Linked DNA regions of Homo sapiens. The protein of the gene in region 2 purifies or fractionates together with the protein of the main gene of each other region. This does not show direct contact. Each region holds a gene or a part of one and is shown on either strand. Other genes may lie near its edges. The genes, in order: TMEM245 and RTP4.

Region 1 (4,028 bases), on a different chromosome or scaffold from region 2:
GAACCCTTGAATTTTATTGCTTAAGAAGAGATCCATAAATAAGACACACACTTAGAAAGATTTTTAGTATCACATTTTAAGATATTGAGCCTTTACTTAGCTAGAAAATTCAGTTAGATAGGGCATATCATTTCCCTAATATTTGAGTTTGTGAGTATTTAACTTGTTTTGTTGGAAGTTGTTGAGGAGGAGCTACTGCTTAGATTCTTTTGCTTTGTTAGTGTTTTGCTGATGATGTTAAGTTGTTTTTCTTTTACTCTTTTTTCAGCATTAGCAGCAATCCTTGGAGCAGTGCCATTCCTGGGGACATACTGGGCAGCAGTACCTGCAGTTCTTGACCTGTGGCTGACACAAGGGTTAGGATGCAAGGCCATTTTACTGTTGATTTTTCATCTCTTGCCAACATACTTTGTAGATACTGCAATCTACTCTGACATATCAGGGTAAGTAAGCCACAGAATTTCTTATTAGTGAATCATCCAGGCATTTCCGTTTTTTTTTTTTTAAAGGAGGATTTTTTTCTCCTGGGGGTATACAAAAGAACTGGTAGTAGGAATTTTCAGTGAAATAGCCTTTTGTGTTCCCACAAATGAAATTTTCATTGAAAATAGTATTGTTTACAAGGCATGATATTTTGGGGTTTTTTTTTTTTTTTTTGGTTGTTGTTGCCCCAGAGTTCCAGAGCAACTTTTTTTTTTTTTTTTTTTTGAGACAATATCTCTTTCACTCAGACTGCTAGAGTGCAGGGTGCAGTCATGGCTCATGGCAGCCTTGAACCTTGAACTCCTAGGCTCAAGCAGTCCTCCTGCCTTGAACTTCCCAAGGCACTAGGATTACGGGAATGAACCACCATGCCCAGCCAATATTTTCTTATTACATATGTAATATTTATAATATATATGATGTCCTGGGTTAAAACCAAATTGTGAATAATTTTCTCTTGATTTAGTGACATTTAACCTAGAAAAGAATTATGACCAGATGTACATCAAATATTTTAAGTACAGTGAACAGTTAATGATTATTTTTATCTCTTCTTTGGTTTTGGAGAAAATGTTGTTAGATTGTATGTCTGAGGATATCCATGTGAAACCAAATCTCAGCAAGTTAATTTCTGGCAAGCAGAGCTCTCTAAAGATATAATTGGAATGGTTCTATGATAAATACAGGTTAAATCTAAGTCAGAATCAACACTTTAGCCATATAATACAATAAATAAATGTCTGTTTTTATAGGTTTTGACATCTCTTTTAGAAATTGCATTAAGTATATCAAGCCAGTTCTCAGTCACATTAAAACTTGAGAGAGAAAATTAAAAAGCTGAACATCATAGTGTGGTTAACTAGTGTGTCACAGTTGACATTTGAGCAGGAATAAGTATGATTAATACTTAAGTGCTTTTATTTCTTTAAACTTTGCTGTAAATTTTATATTAAGGTTTACAGCTGGAATTAAAGAAACACTGTCTTTTTTTTTTTTTTTTTTTTTTTTTGAGACAGAGTCTCCCTCTATCACCCAGGCTGGAGTGCAGTGGTGCAATCTCGCCTCACTGCAACCTTCGCCTCCCAGGTTCAAGCCATTCTCCTGCCTCAGCCTCCTGAGTAGCTGGGATTACAGGCGTGCACCACCACACCCGGCTAATTTTTGTATTTTTACTAGAGATGGGATTTCACCATGTTGATCAGGCTGATCTTGAACTCCTGACCTCAAGTGATCCGCCTGCCTTGGCCTCCCAAACTGCTGGGATTACAGGCATGAGCCACGATGCCCGGCCTAAAATACTGTCTTTAAACGTTGTTATTGGGAAATGAAAGGTTTGGCATAAATTGTTTTATTTTTTAATAGGTTAAGCTTTTATTCATAAACTCCCACACGTTTTTATTTTTTTTAAAAAAAGCTTTAAGGCTGAGCATAGTGGCTCAAGCCTGTAATCCTACCACTTTGAGAGGCCGAGGTGGGTGGATCACTTGAGCCCAGGAGCTCAAGACCAGCCGGGGAAACATGGTGAAACCCGTTCTCCACAAAAATATAAAGATTAGTTTGGTGTGGTGGCACATGCCTGTAGTCCCAGCTACTCAGGAGGCTGAGGTAGGAAGATCACTTGAGTCTGGGAGGTCAAGACTGCAGTAAGCTGTGATTGCGGCACTGCATTCCAGCCTGGGTGATGGAGCGGAATAAAAAGCTTTAAGCATTTTTGATAGTTTTCCTTGAATGTGTTGTTTAGGGAAGAAGTTTACTTAGCAAACATGGAATACTGCCCTAAATCATTTTTTTGGAATGAGAAAGACAAACACATTATGAATATAATTTATTGGTTTCCTGAAGACTGGTTCTCCACAAGTCTTACTTTGATTTAGCTGTAATATAGAACATCCTTCCAGGATATTTAGTTATTTGCCCCTCACTGAATTGTTCTTCTCATCTATGTTTAAAACTAGAAACAAACAGAATGTGACTTATTTCCCAGTCCTTCTGATGTCAGTGGTCCTTTCTTGTCATTATCAATGTGCTATGCTACTGTGTTCTGTTTTATTTCATTCCGCTTACATAAGTGATACTGTAATAAGCTGGAGGGCATTTGTGATTCTCCTGTGAAATAGAAATCTTGGGCTTTGTGACAGATATTTTCCTCAGGAGGCCTTTTATCATCACCTATGTTAAAAACTATATTTTAGGAGGTTGCCAAAAGTCTGACCTATGAGTAACAGGGATGCTCTCATTGTTGCTGTCGTCATATAAAAGCATAATTAACTGAATTACATGCTAAATTGTGCTCACTTAATTATCCTTGATGGAGGTTAACTTAACAGGTGACTCCTAACCAGTCCCAAGCCAACATTAACCCATCATAGGCAGGCACCTGTAATGGGTATAAAATATCTGTTAACATTGCTGGCTTTATTCTTTCATTCCTGGAGCTATAAAAAGAGGCAGATGTCATCCATAGGAAAAACAATTGTTGCATCTCAATATTGTTGCATCTCAATATTATTGCAGTCAGTGTTCAGTTGTATGCATCGAGGTGATCTAAAGAAAGCTGATAATATGCTAAAAAGCATAGTGTATTAAAGAATGCACATTGTATTAGAAATGTATTTCAGATTTTTTCCAGTTTTTGTGTGTTAAAGGTCGTGCTCTTTATTCCAGAGGTGGCCATCCTTACCTGACAGGCTTGGCAGTGGCCGGTGGAGCATACTACCTAGGCCTGGAAGGAGCAATCATCGGTCCTATTCTTCTCTGCATACTTGTGGTTGCTTCCAATATCTATAGTGCCATGCTAGTGAGTCCCACGAATTCAGTTCCCACGCCAAACCAGACCCCATGGCCTGCTCAGCCTCAGCGGTGAGTTAAAGCAGAATAATCATAAGCTGTATTTATACATTGAACTGTCCTGTCTCTGTATTTGATAAGTAGCTTCATCCAGACTTGTCAGGATAAAGGTATTTGAGTACCAATGCTGTGATAAAGGTTGCAGAAGACACTAAGTAAATACAAATCGTTGGCAGAGTTTTGGGTTTCATATACCAAGAAAATTTAAAACCTATATTGGGGCCGGGAGCAGTGGCTCACGCCTATAATCCCAGCACTTTGGGAGAACAAGGCAGGTGGATCACCTGAGGTCAGGAGTTCGAGCCCAGCCTGGCCAACATGGCGAAACCCCATCTCTACTAAAAATACAAAAATCAGCCAGGTGTGGTGGCACCCGCCTGTGAACCCAGCTGTTTGGGAGGCTGAGGCAGAAGAATTGCTTGAACCCAGGAGGCGGAGGCTGCAGTGAGCCCAGATTGTGCCACTGGACTCTAGCCTGGGCAACAGCATATAAAAAAAAAAAAAAAAAAAAGACCTATATTGGGTGAGAATTGTTAATGTCTTGAAAAGCCAAAAATAAATTTAAAAAATCTAATTCTATGCGGGACATGGTATACCAGATTGAAAGAGACTCAAGAAATGGACAACCAGGCCAGATGTGGTGTGGCTCATGCCTGTAATCCCAGCAGTTTGGGAGGCTGAGGTGGGCAAATCACCTG
Region 2 (4,151 bases):
TGAGTTTCTTCCTTCTGGTGGGTTTATTGTCTTGCTGGCTCAAGAGTGAAGCTGCAGACCTTCCGGGTGAGTGTTAACAGCTGATAAAGGCAGAGCAGACCCAAACACTGCGCAGCAGCAAGATTCATTGCAAAAACCAAAAGAACAAATCTTCCACCACGTGGAAGGGGACCCGAGCCGGTTGTCAGTGCTGGCTGGGGCAGCCTGCTTTTATTCTCTTATCTGGCCCCACCCACATCCTGCAGATTGGTCCATTTTACAGAGAGCCAATTGGTCTGTTTTACAGAGAGCTGATTGGTCCGTTTTGACAGGGTGCTGATTGGTGCATCCACAAACCCTGAGCTAGACACAGGGTGCTGATTGGTGCATTTACAAACCTTGAGCTAGATACAGAGTGCCCATTGGTGTATTCACAATCCCTTAGCTAGACATAAAGGTTCTCCAAGTCCCCACTAGACTCAGGAGCCCAGCTGGCTTCACCCAGTGGATCCCGCCCCGGGGGCAGCAGGTGGAGCTGCCTGCCAGTCCTGCGTGTGTGCCCGCACTTCTCTGCCCTTGGGCGGTCGATGGGACCAGGCACCATGGAGCAGGGGGTGGCACTCGTCGGGGAGGCTTGGGCCATGCAGGAGCCCAGGGTGGGGAGACTCAGGCATGGCGGGCTGCAGGTCCCGAGCCCTGCCCCACAGAGAGGCAGCTAAGGCCCAGCGAGAAATCGAGCTCAGTGCCGGTGGGCCGGCACTGCTGGGGGACCTGGCGCACCCTCCGCAGCTGCTGGCCCAGGTGCTAAGCACTTCACTGCCCAGGGCTGGGGGCCTGCCGGCCGCTCCGAGTGCAGGGCCCGCCAAGCCCACGCCCACCCAGAACTCTAGCTGGCCTGCAAGCCCTGCATGCAGCCCCGGTTCCTGCCCGTGCCTCTCCCTCCACATCTCCCAGCAGGCTGAGGGAGCCGGTTCTGGCTTTGGCCTACCCAGGAAGGGGCTCCCACAGTGCAGTGGCTGGCTGAAGGGCTCCTCCAGCGCGGCCAGAGTGGGCACCGAGGCCGAGGAGGCTCCGAGAGCGAGCGAGGGCTGCGAGGGCTACCAGCATGCTGTCACCTCTCACTTTGCCTATTATAAAAAATGAGAGAGAGAAAATAAAAGCGAATTTATATGTGACCCCAGAATCTAGAACAGAGCTCTTTATCTCTCTCTCAGCAAGGCCTATTAACTAACACAGTTTTGCTGCTGTCTGTTTTCAGAACAAAGACTTGTTCTGTGTACTCAGACAGTCTAAAATGAAGGTTGAAAAAAACAGCTCATGTCCATACACAGAAACAGAAACTGAACCGAACACCGAAACTGAAACTGTTTGTCTCTTCCTGAGAAACGAGCAAACCTGAAAGCTACTCTCTCAGCTTCAGAGGGAAAAAATGGTTGTAGATTTCTGGACTTGGGAGCAGACATTTCAAGAACTAATCCAAGAGGCAAAACCCCGGGCCACATGGACGCTGAAGTTGGATGGCAACCTTCAGCTAGACTGCCTGGCTCAAGGGTGGAAGCAATACCAACAGAGAGCATTTGGCTGGTGAGTGTGGGTTTCCCAGGCAATAGCTCTTCTGAGAAGAGAGGCTCAGGCTCAGCTTAGCATGATTTATTCCTCTGAGAGCTTGTTGAAGGAGTAAATGTCACCAGGGCCTCCATCCTATTGTGGTCATAGTACTCTTTAGGGTCGACATGATAAGACGACTCCAAACCTCCATTTTGTTTAACTGCTGGAAGTTTCTTCTTTTACTAGGTTTCCCTCCGTAAATATTTCTGGAAAACCCTGGAGAAGGCTCCCTATTCCATAAATTTTCCCTTCTAGTTTCTCACCACGTCATTTGTTCCAGACTACCTCTAGAGTCTTTTGCAGTCTCCCCAGCAGTCCTGACCAGCTTCCCCCAGCTGCACCAGCTCTCCAAGCCTTGGCACTGTTCAGTACAAGCCTGGGACGGAGCCTTTTTTTTTTTTTTAAATATCTTAAGAATTGGCTAAGATCAAGCAGTTACTCTGAACATTGCTTTACTGAAGGCCTGGGGATAATAGTATAGAATGATGTTGCAAAAACTAAATCTAAAACCCAGTTCATGGAGTCACCAAGTAATACTCCTCCCTTACTCACCACTTCCCTCTTTAACCCCCAGCAAGCCTCCAGGTTGCAGGAACCAGTTTCCTTGACCATGTTAGGAGGGTGAGAATTGCTGACCTGGATAATCAAATTTATTTTTAAATGACACACAGGACCTTCGGTATAGTTTTCATCTGACCTATTACTCAGCTTGCCTGCCTGCCCCATCCTGCCTCAGGTATGGCCTACTCCATTCCTTATGGACTATTAGCTATGCCATGCATCTTCAGACTTCCACACTCTTGTTCATGGAGTTCTGCTTGTTCAGCAGACCCTCCCCTCACCCCTCCCTGCTCATCCTTCAAGGCCCACTCTAGTGCCTCCTCCTCCTAAAAGCATTCTCTGGTTCTCCTAGGCAGAGTAAGTATTCCTTCGTATACATTCCCATAAGATAATGGGATAAGATAAAATATATATGTATATGTATACATAAATGATATATAATTATATATACATATGTACTATGTATTTCAGAATAATAAATTTATAAATAATATATGTATTATTATATATTGTATCAAATACAGTATATGCTTATTTTTAGCTGCAGAATCTGTTGTTTAAATAAAGCCTCCTAAACGTCTCCAGAACAGTTCTCAAGTCACTTGTCAGAGCCCGTATAGCAGTCATGTTGCTCTGCTTTCTAATCCAGGGAAATGTGTAAATATTTCTGTCCACACCAGCCAGAGCTTTTTGAGGGACTCATGATGTCTTACAACGTTTTGGCACTCCTCCAAACAGAAAGAAGGTGTTTCTCCTGTTGGGATGATTTGATTTGATTGTCATTTCGAGATCGGAAAAGCAACCTACCAGTGTACTTTTGGAAAATATCAATCAGCTTTTGAAAAGCATTTTGTAGTTTACAAAGTGTTTTCACATACATCGTCTCTTTTGATGCTGCCAATATAACCCTTGAATTTTTTTTTTATGGATTCAAACAATGAGGGTTATAGAAGGGAAGGGCTTTGCCCAAGGTCTTCCTGATGTAAACTGGATCTTCAACCCAGGTATGAGGGATGCAGTCTGTTTCTCCAGGTGTGAGAGATTAGCTACACTACTCACCAGAGGCAACGTGTTACAGCAGGTAAATGAGTTGAATTTCAGATGGCCTGAGATTAGCAGCATGCCTCTAACATTTACCCTGTGTGTCCTTAAGCAGGTTGCGTATCCTTTTCATGATTCAGTTTCCTTATCTGGATATTGGGTTTAATAGTGCTTACTTCACAGATGAAATGGGATAAAATTATAAAGACCAATTATATTGTATGCATCAAAATAGATACTTTACCAAAGCTTTCTATGACCAAAATTAGGAATAAGTTTCTCTGGAAGATGGCAGACATGATTTTCCCTCAGAGGCATCTGGAGATGTTTTACTAGCAAAGAGGTAGACTTGGGTGTAACATATGGGTGGATACTCAGTAGGTCACAGGAAAAAGCCTTATCTGAAACATAGTCCTTCTTGTTCCTGTTTATCAATGACTGGGACAATCTAAATCACATGCATTTTTTCAAATGGAAAAGGATGTTAGTGACAGGGGCCAAGACCATTTTCCCTCAGGTTAACAACCAGATGAAGGCATAATGGGTGTCTTCCTTCTGACTGCAGGTTCCGGTGTTCCTCCTGCCAGCGAAGTTGGGCTTCCGCCCAAGTGCAGATTCTGTGCCACACGTACTGGGAGCACTGGACATCCCAGGGTCAGGTGCGTATGAGGCTCTTTGGCCAAAGGTGCCAGAAGTGCTCCTGGTCCCAATATGAGATGCCTGAGTTCTCCTCGGATAGCACCATGAGGATTCTGAGCAACCTGGTGCAGCATATACTGAAGAAATACTATGGAAATGGCACGAGGAAGTCTCCAGAAATGCCAGTAATCCTGGAAGTGTCCCTGGAAGGATCCCATGACACAGCCAATTGTGAGGCATGCACTTTGGGCATCTGTGGACAGGGCTTAAAAAGCTGCATGACAAAGCCGTCCAAATCCCTACTCCCCCACCTAAAGACTGGG

The links.
Region 1: the proteins of RTP4 (region 2) and TMEM245 purify together in Homo sapiens (affinity purification with mass spectrometry; one large-scale study listed by BioGRID and IntAct). This does not show direct contact.

Annotation. Positions count from the first base shown.
Region 1 is NC_000009.12:109,032,621-109,036,648, reverse strand, and holds part of TMEM245 (transmembrane protein 245), read left to right. Parts: intron 1-268; coding exon 269-443; intron 444-3,147; coding exon 3,148-3,342; intron 3,343-4,028.
Region 2 is NC_000003.12:187,367,034-187,371,184, forward strand, and holds the start of RTP4 (receptor-transporting protein 4), read left to right. Parts: upstream 1-1,351; 5' UTR 1,352-1,408; coding exon 1,409-1,563; intron 1,564-3,754; coding exon 3,755-4,151. UniProt on the Homo sapiens protein: Chaperone protein that facilitates the trafficking and functional cell surface expression of some G-protein coupled receptors (GPCRs). Promotes functional expression of the bitter taste receptor TAS2R16.